Linked DNA regions of Homo sapiens: region 1 is linked to region 2. The links come from fine-mapping of genetic effects on gene expression. Tissue or cell type: whole blood. Region 2 holds a variant in brackets; the other region holds the start of a gene. All regions are shown on one strand. Distances are from middle to middle. Region 1 holds the start of FCHSD1 (FCH and double SH3 domains 1). Region 2 has its middle 2.8 kb from the start of ARAP3.

Region 1 (4,484 bases), 33 kb after region 2:
GAAGGAGCACTGGACTAAAGGCTTCAGTGGCTGCGTGTCCCAGGACAGGTCATGGCCCCTCTCTGGGCCCAGCCCATTTATCTATACCATGAGGTAACTGAAGTAAGGAGAGCAGTGAATGTCAAACTGTGTTTCTTAGAGCCATAAGCCCCACATATTATCCCTGAACAAGGGCAGCTCCTGCTTTATATATTTGATACGTAGGGGTTCCATGAGAGATTTTGGGTTTTAAAGGAATGGTTTTACTGCATTAAAGAAAAAAAATGCTTTGGAAACCAGAGGCCTGGGTGATGTTAAAGTCTATCCTGTCCCACTTCCTACATTCTGGGACTACCGTGAAGCCTGGAGTAGGGAGAGCGAGTTTGGGAGCTGGGACTCGGGGAGTCAAAAATAGATGAGTAATTGTCAATAAACCTGGGAACCAAAAGACTACCATTCTCATTCATTCATTCAACAAATATGTATTGTGCACCTAATTGGTGCCAGGTCTGGGGATATAGCATGAACAAAACAAACAGGGCCCCTGCTCTTATGAATCCTCCGTTGTGGAGGGGAACAGAAAATAGCAAATAAACACATAAACCAGTACTTGAACAAGTGAGTTTAGTGCTGTGAAGAAACTGAACCAAAGTGATGAGCTTGAAGAGTGATTGTGGAGGCCAGGCGCAGTGGCTCACACCTGTAATCCCAGCACTTTGGGAGGCTGAGGGGGATGGATTACCTGAGGTCAGGAGTTTGAGACCATCCTGGCAAAGATGGTGAAACCCTGTCTCTACTAAAAATACAAAATTAGCTGGTTGTGGTGGCACGTGCTTGTAATCCCAGCTACTCGGGAGGCTGAAGCAGAAGAATCACTTGAACCTGGTAGGTGGAGGTTGCAGTGAGCCGAGATTGCACCATTGCACTCCAGCCTGGCAACAGAGCAAGACTCCATCTCAAAAAAAAAAGAGTGATTGTGGAGATGGTCTTTGGATGGGTGGATGGGGAAGGCATCTGTGAAGAGTTGCAAAGTAAGGGAAAGAAGCTGTTGGAGGCGACAGATGGAACGCTGGAAGGAGGAGATTCTGGAGAAAGAAAGCAGGCATGAAGAACTCTGCATTGGAAGGGACTTGGTCTACTGAGGGAACAGCAAAGAGGCTGGAGCACAGTGAGCAGACAGTGGGAGGAGAGTACAGGCTGAAGTAAGAAAGACCAGCAGGGTCTTCCATGCGTAGCCTTGAAGGCCATGGATTCTATTTGGATTTTATTCTGAAGCAAGTGCATTTTAAGCAAGTAAATTATGAGATCTTATTTCCCTTTAAAAAAGAAAAAAAAGGTTGATCACTCTGAGTGCTGTGTGAACAGTGGGTTGGGGTGAGGGCAGTGTGGAAGCAAGGAGATCAGATATTAGACCAGAAGTCTAATAATGGGGGCTTGGACTAGGATGGTGGTCTTGGAAATTGAGGGAAGTGGATCAAGAGGTTTTTGTTTGTTTATTGTTGTTTGAAATAGAACCTGTAGGACTTACTGATGGATAGAATGTAGGGGTAGGAGAAGGCACATTGACTCTGGGTTTCTGACTTAACTGACTGGAGGAAATGCGGTGCCATTTAAAACGTTACGGGGGGAGGATCAGGTTGAAGGAGGTTTAAAAGCTTTAAAAGTTGAGGTTCCTATTAGATATACTAGCAGAGGTGTCAGTGGGGAGTTGGAATGTGAATCTGGAGTTTTGAGACATGTCAGGGGTACTGGGACAGGTGCCTGAGCCAAAGAAGCTTAGGTGAGGAGGATGAGGAATTGGGGAGAGGCTCCTCAGGAAGCAGTGCTAGGGCTGGAAGATCCTAAAGGTGGCAGGGGCTTCCTGCGCATCTCCCAGCTCTCGCCGACTCACTGGTATCGTTTAGTTTTCAGTGGGGCCAAGTCTTTTTCCCTTTGGGCCTGGTTCCTTCCTGGATCCAGGCATCTTTCTCACCCCGCTCACGCTGGCTTTTCCAGTTAAGCGGGAATTAGGAAAAGGTCTGGGACCAGCCCTCTCTTCGTCAGATGCATCTTTGCTCAGGTGCCCAGTGACTCAGTTTCCCTGGTCACACACTGAATTCCTCTCCATTCCTCATCATTAGCTCGGGGACTGGGGATCTACATATGCAAATGAATAATTATCAATAATTACAGGCTGAATCAGTGGTTACACTACAAATAGAACTTAGGCGTCTTGACTCAGATGCCTGGGGTTCTTCCCACCGCCCAGCGGACGCTGCGTCCGCCCCGCCCGCCCCGCCACCCGGACCCTGCCGGCGTATTCGCAGCAGTAACAGGTTTAGTTTCTCGGTGGCCCCCTCTCGCTTCCGCGCCCTGCGACGTCGCCGGACAAGTCGTGGGCGGGCAGAGGGCGGGGCCTGACCTGGCCTGGGGCGGGGCTCCATAGTGGGCGGGGCTTCCTCCAGTTCCGGAGTCCAGTGGCTGACCGCCTTGCTGGAGCGGAGATGCAGCCGCCGCCCCGAAAAGTGAGCTTGGCCCTGAATGGGGACTCCTGGCGGGCTGGGGGAACGGAGGGAGCTAAGGGGGCATCCGACTTGTGGTAGGAGACGGGAAGTCGGAAGGGGTCAGACCCCAAACCAGAAGTAACAGAGGAAAGAGCTCAGCACCCCCCCGGCCCCGCCCCCTCACCGCTCCCTGCGCGGAGTGTTTTTTAGGTCCTTGCGCTGGGGTCTTCATCCTCTCTTTGCCCCCACAGGTGAAGCCGGCCCAGGAGGTGAAGCTTCGCTTCCTGGAACAGCTGAGCATCCTTCAGACCTGGCAGCAGAGGGAGGCGGATCTGCTGGAGGACATCAGGTAGCTCCCCCAACCCCCTTCATTTACACTCACCTTCGTCGTTGTGCGCCACTTCTCCCCAATATACATGTGCTGGGGTGGAGGAACAGGGGCCAAGAGCTCCCCAGCCGACCCATCCACAGCCCTCACCCTAGGCCTGGCCTCTCCAGATACTGGATAGGAATGCTCCCCCACCTAACCCCTCCCAACCCCCTCCCACCCACATAAACACACAGGAACCCTCCCTCAAAGCCCTTGACTCCACACCACTGCCCCCAACCCCACAATCAACCTTAGGGCAGAATCCCTCTCCCTCTTCCAGACCTGTTGGAAGGCTGGCAGACATCGTACCCAGGCCCCCATCAGTCTTCACCTCTAAGCCTACAGATGAACCTCTGGGGTGGGGAGGATCCTGCTGGGGCCCGGGGCAGTAAGGTGAGGGTTTCCTGTGTTGCAGCTGCCCGAGGTGATCTCAAGGACTCCCATCAGTCCCATTCCCTCTGGGTGTAGTTACACTCTAGGAACCTGGCTCCCCCCAACCGCTCCCTCCTGCCCAGAGTAGAGGACTGAGGATGGGAGAACAGGACCAAACATAACCTTATCCCCCACCTCACCCCCGACCTGCAATCTCCGCAGATCCTACAGCAAGCAGAGGGCAGCCATTGAACGGGAGTATGGGCAGGTATGGGACTTTTCTCTGGACCTTACCTCTTGTTCCAGCCTCTCTTATATCACCAGTAATGTCTGTCCATACCTATCCCTATTGTGGTCAAGAGCAGATGCCTAGAGTCAAGCAGACTGGTGTCAGATCCCTGCTGTGTAATTATAGCCATGTGACCTTGGACAAGTTACTTAACCTTTCTTGACCTCAGTTTCTTTCTCTGTGAAATGGGAATAATAATAATACCTTACCTTCATGTAGGGTTGTTGTAAGGATTAAACAAATTAATGACTATAAGGCATTTAGCAAAGCAAGTGGCACATAATGTACCCAAAGAATGGTATGATTATACTCTGATGTCATATTCTGCCAGTTGGGGTGGGTCTTTGAAAGGGAACTTGGTTCTGTGATGGCTTTTTCACCAGGCACTCCAGAAACTGGCTGGCCCATTCCTGAAGAGGGAAGGGCACCGGAGCGGTGAGATGGACAGCAGGTGGGCCCTATGGAGGGGGAGGGCCACAGAGGCCAAAAAGTGATGGGGAGCTCAGCCCCAGGAACCTGTGGGGATGAAGGCCTAGCAAGTGGGGAAGGCACGTGAGCTGTAGGTAGAGCTGACACAGCAGCAGCAGAGGAGCTGACCCAGCAAGGACACTGTGGGTGGGGTGGAGGGCAGGAGTGAGGCTTGTGGCTGAGCTAATGGGCTGATCGATTGATGGGCTCCCAGACAAGGGAGGATGGGAAAGCACTCTGTCTCCCATGGTGTTGGTCAGGGGGCAGGGGGTGGGGGTGGTCTCATGAAGCTGTGGAGTGCTCTCCTCCTCAACACAGACCTTCTCTGGGGAGGGGCAGGACAGTGTTCGGTGCCTGGCGCTGCCTGCTGGATGCCACCGTGGCTGGGGGCCAAACCCGACTCCAGGCGTCTGACCGATACCGTGACCTAGCAGGGGGTACAGGGCGGAGCGCCAAGGAGCAGGTGCTTAGGAAGGTATGGCTCAGAGGTTGGGGTGAAGGAAGAGCTGGCTTGGGACCAAAG
Region 2 (4,295 bases):
GGGCTCCCTGGAGGGTAGCTCTGGAGTCTAGGGGGAAATGGCACAGCCCTCAGGCCAGAGGAATTAGGGGTAGGGAGGGCTGTGCTGACCCTAACCAGTCTCCATGCAGCCATCTTCCTAAAATTCAAACCTAAATTCATGAGTCTATTGCCCCATGCTTAAACTCTTCCCTGGCTCCCCATGGCTCCTGGCATGGAGACCAAATCTCATACAAGCCCTCCAAGGGCCTGCATGGCCTGGCCCCTGAGATCCTTTCAGTCTCAGCTGGTCCCAAACTCCCTGTCTCTTTGATCTGTCTCCCTTCCTCACCAGGCTGACTCCTACCTCAGGGCCTTTGCACTCGTGGTTCTTCTGCCTAGAACACTCCCTCCCATCCCGCTTAACTCCTACCCATCTTTCTGAGATCTCAACTTAAGCAGAGCTCCCTGCAGAAGCCTCCCAGACCCCCAGGCCAGGTCAGCTGCCTCTGTTATATGCTCTTACAGTGCTTCCCTTCAGAAAATTCATCTTGGTTTGTAATTACACATTTATTTGGGGGTTGTTTGATAAATGTCTCACTTCTTGAGCAGGTCATGTTCCCTAAAGTCTGCTGAGCACGTCATTGCATCTCTAAACCCTTGAGCAGTGGTTGGTCCAGAAAAGATGATTAATAAAAACATGAGAAATAAATGAAAGGATTGAATGGGAGTCTTCCTTCCTGTAAGAAACATGCTCGGCCGGGCGCAGTGGCTCACGCCTGTAATCCCAGCACTTTGGGAGGCCAAGGCAGGCGGATCACCTGAGGTCAGGAGTTCAAGACCAGCCCCGCCAACATGGTGAAACTGCGTCTCTACTAAAAAAAACCACAAAAATTAGCCGGATGTGGTGGTGGGCGCCTGTAATCCCAGCTACTAGGGAGGCTGAGGCAGGAGAATCGCTTGAATCTGGGAGGCGGAGTCTACAGTCATACGAGATCGCACCACTCCACTCCAACCTGGGCGACAGAGGGAGACTCTGTCTCAAAAAAATAAATAAATAAAAAGAAACTTGCACCTTGGCATCCCCCTAGGCCCTGTCCCATCTCATCAGGACCAAATGTGGGTGATGGCTGTGCCTTTTACCATCCAGAGGGTAAGGGCAGGAAAGGAGTGTGACCTGGAGGCCACTGGAGACCATGGAGGCGATCAGGAGTTGCAGGGGTGACAGGAAATTGAGTTACAAAAGTGATGGAACAGACAAGATGACAACTGGGGACCCTGGGGAAAATACAAGGGGTACAATGTGGTCTAATTTGGCAATAGGATGCCACAGGCTGATTGATTAAAATAGGTAACGGGATATGCCAGAGTGATGAAGAAACAGGCAAGCTGGGTGCATACCAGAGTTATCATGGAAGTAACTGGCAAAAATAGGAACAAGGAACAGGAAACACTTTGAGCACTCATTGAATGTCAGGTCCTTTCCACATATTACCCATATATTTCCATAGATTAATCTTTACAACCCTGTCAGGCACTATTCTCTCTCCTTTTTTCAGAAAAGGAAACTGAGGCACACAGGGCAAAATAGAGATGAATAATCTGCTCAGGTCACAGCTGGTAGAGGTGGCATCAGGGCTTTATTTTAGAGACTGTTTTTTTGTTGACCTTTTGTTTTAGTTTTTGTTGTTGTTGGTGGTGGTGTTTTGTTTTGTTTTTAGAGACAGGCCTCACTGTCACCCAAGCTGGAGTGCAGTGGTACGATCTCGGCTCACTGCAATCTCCACCTCCTGGCTCAAGCAATCCTCCCACCTCCACCTCCTGAGTAGCTGGGACTACAGGTGCACACTACCACACTTGGCTAATTTTAAAATTTTTAGTAGAGACGAGGTCTTGCTATGTTGCCCAGGCTGGCCTCAAACTCCTGCTCTCAAACAATCCTCCTGCCTTGGCCTCCCAAAATGCTGGGATTACAGGTGTGAGCCACAGTGCCTAGCCGAGAGACCTTGTTCTTAATTACTGCATACCATCCACTTTTGGTGAACAAAGTGGCCTCCAAAGTGATTGTGGCTTAATAGTCTATCATTTGAGTGGGGAACAAATCGAGACATGGAAGGGGCTATTGAAGAATTCCCTTCCACATCTCCTCATTGCTTC[A/G]TTCTTCCTCTTCCTCTGCTCACTAGTGTCCCTTTTGTCCTATGTGTTAAGATTAAGATTTAAGATTTACTAATTTCGGCCGGGCATGGTGGCTCACGCCTGTAATCCCAGCACTTTGGGAGGCTGAGGTGGATGGATCACCTGACAGGAGTTTGAGACCAGCCTGGCCAACATGGTGAAACCCTGTCTCTACTAAAATACAAAAATTAGCTGGGTGTAGTGGCAGGCACCTGTAATCCCAGCTACTCGGGAGGCTGAGGCACAAGGCTGAGGCACGAGAATTGCTTGAACTCAGGAAGACACAAGCCAGGGGCCAGAAGCCTCCACCTGCCCCATATCATTGAGCCAAAGAAGGGAAGTGGGGTCTGAGGGAGGAAGCCAGGTCTCCCTCTCTGTGGCTCTGCCCCATCATCTGGCATTGGTGTCCTTAACTTGGAGTCAGTGGACTTGGATGGGAAAAGAATATTACTTTCACTAATCTCTAGCTGAAATTTAACATTTCCTCCAATTATGACAATAGCAACAAACCAGTCATTTTAGCCATAACTATGGCTTTGTCACCAGTAGAAATCACATATATTTTTATATCATATTACAATATTGCAGATCTTTTGAAATACCATTTATGCTCATCACTGCATCAAAGTTATGTGAGGTATCAACCTACCACTAGATCTTATTTAAAGCATTAATAAAGAAGCACATATATTACTATATCACATCGGTTTTATATGTGTATTACAACATAATTGGTTTCCTTTGCAATCCTATATATTTTATTTTATGCATTTTAAAATATTATTCTGAGATGAGACCACATACTTTACCGTATTGCCAAAGGAGAACATGGCACAAAAAGGTTCAGAACTCTTGCATCTAGCCCCTGACCCAAACTCCCCGGCATCCATTCCTCAAAACTCCCTGTGCCCTTTACTGTCTTTTCCTGCTCCCTTATTTTGCTGGGTTAGTCTGAGTCCTTAAAGAAGAAGCTGCCAAGGCAGAATGCAAGGATTTGACTAGGGGAGATGCCTGTGAGAGAGGAAGGGAGCCTGGAGCTAGGAGAGCTGTGAAGGAGAGAGGGAAGGAATAAAGGTTGAGAGGAGCATCCTAAAACACCAGTCAAAGGAAAGTTCAGCAAAGCCATTGGGAAATCTTGATCCAAAGTCAGCTGTCAAAGGAGTCCCCTATCTCCCAGGAATGGGTCTGCCTTAGATCTCTGCTGAGCTCTGTCACTGGCTGGGAGCAGCCCAGTGGGAAGCTGGCCTTAGATTTCAGAGAGAAGCAGCTGGGGCCATTGGTTAATTTCACTCCTCACAGTGTAAGATCTGTGAGGAGCATTCTCACTGCCACCACAGTTGCCCATCTGAAAAAAAGGACATGGTGCAGGGGTCCTGTCCAGGGTGGTAGGTGAGCATGGTAGTTATAGATATAGACTTGGAGGGTTGGCTATTTTCTAGCTGCAGAGTCTTGAGCAAGTTATTTAATGCTCCCTGTCTCCTTATATGTAAAATAGAGGTGATAAAATTTCCTATTTGTAGGGATATTTGTGAGGATTAAAGTTTGCAAAGCAATGTTTACATAGATCCTGGAGCACGGTCAGCTCTCAATAATTGGTAGCCCTTATTATGGCTATTGCAATTATTATTTTATTACTATAATTCTCTTTCTCAAAGGGAAGGCCGGGAAAGTGGGGCTCCAGTAGGTTGAAGATGACAGTCCCTCCCCTAGCTGAGGCAGCTGGAAGAGGTGGGAACCACTTCCTCCCACTCCCCTCTTCTTCCCCTGAGGCAGGGGTCTTCCCCTAGCTACTGACAGTTCCTGTGTCTGCTGACTCACAGCCAACTTCCTCTCATACAAACAGGAAAACACAGCCGGCCAGCGCCCCCGCCACCCCCAACACATACACACACACACACACACACACACACACACACACACACACACACACACACACAAACACCCCCCCCCCACACCCAAACACTGGTCCTGCTCAGAGAGGGAAGTGCCTCCGCCCCTGGGAGACAGGCTCCAGGACCGGGGTTCCGGCAAGATTAGCGAAGGAGAGAAGGGCCATTCCTCTTCAGGCCTCCCCGGCATCCCCCCTGAAATTTTAGGGTGGGAGTTGGGGAGAAGGGGCGGCTTCTCCCATGAATGAAACAGCTGCTTGCTTGGTCACTGAGC

What was found.
Region 1: FCHSD1 starts here. The variant in region 2 is fine-mapped to the expression of FCHSD1 in whole blood (TOPMed, PIP 0.91).

Annotation. Positions count from the first base shown.
Region 1 is chr5:141,649,347-141,653,830 of GRCh38, reverse strand. FCHSD1 (FCH and double SH3 domains 1) reads left to right here and starts at 2,413. Exons shown (of 20, transcript NM_033449.3): 1 at 2,413-2,483; 2 at 2,714-2,811; 3 at 3,427-3,472; 4 at 3,877-3,944; 5 at 4,295-4,436. The coding sequence starts at 2,463. It overlaps ARAP3 (ArfGAP with RhoGAP domain, ankyrin repeat and PH domain 3), which reads left to right. Exons shown (of 33, transcript NM_022481.6): 33 at 1-429. RefSeq lists an enhancer at 3,813-4,391.
Region 2 is chr5:141,682,880-141,687,174 of GRCh38, reverse strand. No RefSeq gene overlaps it. Among named protein-coding and RNA genes, the nearest start is that of ARAP3, 2.8 kb to the right of the region's middle. The variant A/G (reference allele first, on the strand shown) is at 2,115.